2 separate regions of the Homo sapiens genome follow, and region 1 is linked to region 2. The links come from fine-mapping of genetic effects on gene expression. Tissue or cell type: whole blood. Region 2 holds a variant in brackets; the other region holds the start of a gene. All regions are shown on one strand. Distances are from middle to middle.

Region 1 (2,685 bases), 21 kb before region 2:
TAAGTAATCTACCAGCTTCTGGCATATCTTTGGCAAGTCACATTTTCTGCCTTGTTTTGTAGCTGAGAAGGGTATAAAAATCCCACGAAAAGAAACCAGAACTCCGAGCCTAGAAATGTAAATTATGATCCAAGCTAAACCACTCACCAGTTGGTTGAACCTAAGTATAAATAATTACCCCCATCCCAGCTCCATTTACCCATCGAAATGGCGATAACATAATCAGTTGCAACCACAAGGTGATGCGGTTAGAAAAAGATAGGAAGAAGAGTGCTCTGAAACGTGTAAAGGTGCTACGTAAATAGAAGGTAATAATCAGTGGTGACAGAACTCTCACCTCCTTTGCAAAACTTAAAGGGTCATCTCATGGCTTACAGCAAGAAAAGAGTCGAGCACAAGTAACCCGAGCCCGTTGGTGACACTTTGCCGAACTCCAGGGGGAGGATGATTAGCAGTTCCGGGCGGGAGTCAGGAGAATGCCAATCCGAGCCCAACGTGGGCTGCTCGCGCTCTCGCCCCCCATGGGAGAGAGGCACTGAGAGATCAAAATGCAACCCCGCTCCAAGCCACCCTCGCAAATGAAGGAATTTCGAAGAGGGGGTAGGAGGAGGCGGGCTGGGCGCGCCGCTGCCACCTCCGACTGGGCCACTCCTTGCGCCGCCAGCGCCCCAGCCCACGGTGCCACGTCCCGGCCTCCGTCACCGCCAGCCCTCACCCTACCCGGAACGGGGCACATCTTCCGGAGGCCACCGGAATCGTTCCCTTGCAGGCGCCCCTGGGGGGCCACACATCGGACCAGGGAAGGGAGGGGACAGTTAGAGCGGTTGGAACAGTTGCCCCCAGGCTGGCCGCCCCGGAACCCGGCCCGGCCCGCCCCGGCGGAGCCTCAGACACGGCCCCGGGCCGGGAAGGCTCCCCAAGGGCAGGCCTCGGCGCCGCCGGCCCAGCGCAGCCCCTTAGGGAGCGGCCCCGCGCTGCAGGCTCACCTCCAATGTGTCAAAAGCGCATGTTCGCCGCCGCTCAACCGACGTCTCCCCTCCGCCGGCCCGGCCAGGCCCGCCCAGCCGCTCGGCTCAGCTCCCCTACGCAGCCCCGAGCTCCACTCAGCGTACCTCCGCGCCCGGCTCCTCCCCGACACGTCAGGGACTGCCTGGGTGTCCGAGGCCATTCTGTGACGCACGGGGGCGGGGCTCGGAGCATGCGCGGCAGCGCACGGGTATGCGGGGCGGGGTGGGGCGGGGCTGGTGTCACAGGGGGCGGGCCAGAGCCCGGCGCGCTGACGCCAAGCTGACGGCGTCCTCTTGCGCAGGCGTCCTCTTGCGCAGGCGCTCCTGGACTCTGCGACCGGCTGGTTTTGGCTTGTGCAGTTCCCTGAAACTGCTATTCGGGAGAGTGGTGCCAAGACGGATGGGAACCTGCCTTCAGTTTTCTGGCCACCAAGGCCCTTCAAGTGTCCATGTGTCTGTGTTCCCGTTTATAAAATGAATCTCGGCTCATAGTTCACCTCCGAGTCCATTCCCCCTGCTCGAACACCCAATGGAACATCAGGAGCATTCTAAGCATCACTCTCACAAAGCTCTGTGTTGTTTTTACAGAACTTCCACTGTTTACATTTTGTATTTGTTCTCATCTTCCTCCAGTAGAATTCTAAGTTCTATGAGAGCTAGAACCTCTTATGCCTTGCTCATCCCAACAGATAACTTGGTTCTAGGCAAAGTGGACGCTCAAATATTTGATGAATGAATGAATGGATTCGTTGGCACAAAGGGGATTTTATATTTGCCCATTTATATATTGTATATATCTGAGCATATATTCATTTTTGTATACATGCGTGTACGTGTGTGTATGGGTGTGACTTTCTCCCCTCCAGGTCCCCCAAGAAATGGAGTCCTATGTGTATATATATACCTCTTACAATCCATCTTGGTTTTTGTTTGTTTGTTTGTTTGTTTGTTTTTGAGACGGAGTTTCGCTCTTGTTGCCCAGGCTGGAGTGCAGTGGCGCGATCTCGGCTCACTGCAACCTCCGCCTCCCAGGTTTAAGCAATTCTCCTGCCTCAGCCTCCCTAGTAGCTGGGATTACAGGCGCCTGCCACCACGCCCGACTAATTTTTGTATTTTTAGTAGAGACGGGGTTTCACCATGTTGGCCAGGCTGGTCTCGAACTCCTGACCTCGTGATCCGCCCGCCTCGGCCTCCCAAAGTGCTGGGATTACAGGCGTGAGACACAGCGCCCGGCCCCATCTTGCATTATTAATGTTTATATATTTTTAGTACGTAAACACACACGTGTATGTGTGTGTGCGCGCGTGTGTATTCCCTAGCGGACTTGGAAGCAAGCTGGAGACGATACTAGCCCAAAAAGGAGGGAAAGAGGGATAGGCAACTTACATAGGGAGTGGAAACTTAAAGGAAGAGATACATTTTAAAAACAATTTTAAGAACTTTTGCTGTATAATGTACAAGGTAATCCTTTCCTTTAGGAGATGGGGTCTACTGTGTTGCCCAGGCTGGTCAAGAACTCCTGACTTCGGCCAGGCGCTGCAGCACTTTGGGAAGCCGAGGCGGGCAAATCACCTGAGGCCAGGACTTCGAGACCAGCCTGGCCAACATGGTGAAACCCTGTCTCTACTAAAAGTACAAAAATTAGCCAGGCATGATGGTGGGCACCTGTAATCCTAGC
Region 2 (2,685 bases):
AATACAAAAATCAGCCAAGTATGGCAGCACGTGCCTGTAGTCCCAGCTACTCAGGAGGCTGAGCTAAGAGAATCACCCGAGCCCAGGGAGGTCGAGGCTGCAGTGAGCTGTGATTGCGCCACTGCACTCCAGCCTGGGCAACAGAGTGAGACCCTATCTCTAAATAAATAAATAAATAAATAAATGTTAAAACTATAAAGTGGCAAAAAAAAGTATACATATAAATTAAAAAGTGGCAAAACCTCGTCTCTAAAAAAATGCAAAAAATTAGCCAAGTATGATGGCAGACACCTGTGGCCCCAGCTACTTGGCAGGCTGAGGTGGGAGGATGGCTTAAGCCCGGGAATTCAAGACTGTAGTAAGCTGTGATCGCACCACTGCACTCCAGCCTGGGCAACAGAGCAAGATCCCATCTCAAAAAAGAAAGAAAGAGAGAAAGAGAGAGGGAGAGAGGGAGACAGAGAGACAGAAAGAGAGAAGAGGCAGGAGGGAGGGAGGGAGGGAGGGAGGAAGAAAGGAAGGTGGTATCCAAAAGAGAGAGGATTCACACAAGAAAGAGAAAAGGGAACTCCTAAGATGACAACATTCAGCAGTCCTGGGGAGAAACCAATCCAAGAGGGAGCAGTAGGATGAGGCACCAGGCAGATGTCTCTGAGGAATAAGAGAAAGAGACTGAGAGATAATCTAATAGATAATAGAGACTGAGAGATAATCTAATGTGTTGATCATATTGCCAGGAATTTTATAGGTCTGTTAGAGAGGAATCAGTGATATGTATCTAAAAACTAAGCAAATGAAGGTACAGTGGCTCAAGCCTGTAATCCCAGCTACTCAGGAGGCTGAGGTGGGAGGATCTCTTGAGGCCAGTGTTTCACACCAGGCTGGGCAACATAGCAAGACCCGGCCTCAAATAAATAAATAAGATGGTATGACACTTTTTTTTTTTGAGATGGAGTCTCGCTCTGTCGTCCAGGCTAGAGTGCAGTGGCGCGATCTCAGCTCACTGCCAGCTCCGCCTCCCAAGTTCACACCATTCTCCTGCCTCAGCCTCCCGGGTAGCTGGGACTACAGGTGCCCAACACCACGCCCGGCTAATTTTTTGTATTTTTAGTAGAGACGGGGTTTCACCATGTTAGCCAGGATGGTCTCGATATCCTGACCTCATGATCCGCCAGCCT[T/C]GGCCTCCCAAAGTGCTGGGATTACAGGCGTGAGCCACCGCGCCCGGCCATGGTACGACATTTCTTAAGGGAATCTGGACAAATGAATGAAAACTAAATATATGTACAACCTTTCACCTAGCAATCCAACATCTAAGGATTTATTCTAAGGAAATAATAGTATGCAAAGATGTACATTCAGTGATGTTTACTGTGGCACTGTTTATTATTATAGAAATAAATTGGAAACACCCTAAACACCCACCAATAGGAGACTGGTTTAATAAATCATGGTACAGCCACACAATGGAATACTACATAGCTGTTAAAAAGGACAAGGTAGATAATTATGAATTAACAAGAGATGACACTCAAGAGATACTATTAAGTGAAAAAAAGGTTGAAAGACAGTAAGTAGAATTTGACATAAAAATATTCATTTAAAAGTCTAGATGTCTATATGCCAAAATATTAATCTTTAGAGATAGAATTATGCAAACACTTTCAATGTCTCTGTACTGATTAAATTTTTATCAGATATTATATTATCAGGAAAAATCATCTAGTTCCATTTACAAAATGAAATAAAAGTAACCCCAAACCCTGAAGAATACAATCATACAGTTTACAAAACACCTTCACAATCATCATTCTGCTTAAGTTTACAAACATCCAAAAAAATAGAGATGTCTTACATTTTGTAGATGAGAAAACACGTTCAGAGGGAAGCAAATGGCCCATGAGCAGTGAAGTCAAGGTCCCAGGACATGATCGCAAGCCCCTAACTTGGTCAGCTCAGCATGGCTTCAGTGCATCTCACTGACTGTCTCTGTTGGCTCCAGATAAACCTGTCAGAACCCTATGAACTCCCTCTGCAACCCAGAAAAATGCTATGTGGGCAGTTCAGGAAATAGGAAACCAAATCAAGGTGATCAGAATATCAGGGGGAAGATGTGCGCAAATGATATGGTTTCAGGAAACCACCAAAGCCGTCTCTTTATGTCACCCAACCCTCATGCCACAGGGACATAACCAACTTTCCAAATGGACCTCAGCCTTTGACAATCCGCCTGCCTCATGGGCACAGAGGGTCCTCAGACATCAGGAGCCCCCCATTCTGGCATCTCTCAGGCAAACCCTCATGTGGCCCAGACCTTCTCCAATCAGCTCTTTCCTCCCAATGTACCTGGTCCTGTGTCTCAGGCCTCAGCTGATCAGATCCACGGCAGCATACGGGGCCCACGCTGAACTTGCTGACACAAAGTAGAAGTCAATAGGAAGAGTGAGAATCACCGTCCGACCAAAGATACGCAAGGATGGGAAATGGATTAGAGCCAGGAAGGCTGGGGCCTGCTGCCCTGAAGTGAGGCAACCCTGCCCGCCTCATCACTCAGCTGGGGTTGAGCAAGACTTCAGTGCTTCGGGAAGGAAAGAAGAAATTCAAGTTCTCAGCCAGGCCTTCAGCCTTCCCATCTCCCCTGCATGTGTAGTTTGGAAGCCACTGGTCTTCCAGACAGATGTCCTGTTC

Evidence for each region. PIP is the estimated chance that this variant, and not a neighbour inherited with it, causes the effect.
Region 1: NDEL1 starts here. The variant in region 2 is fine-mapped to the expression of NDEL1 in whole blood (TOPMed, PIP above 0.99).

The regions. Positions count from the first base shown.
Region 1 is chr17:8,434,347-8,437,031 of GRCh38, reverse strand. It overlaps NDEL1 (nudE neurodevelopment protein 1 like 1), which reads right to left and starts at 1,148. Exons shown (of 9, transcript NM_030808.5): 1 at 987-1,148. RefSeq lists silencers at 595-834, 875-1,074, 1,175-1,344.
Region 2 is chr17:8,412,928-8,415,612 of GRCh38, reverse strand. It overlaps a transcript of NDEL1 not described here. Among named protein-coding and RNA genes, the nearest start is that of RNF222, 16 kb to the right of the region's middle. The variant T/C (reference allele first, on the strand shown) is at 1,179.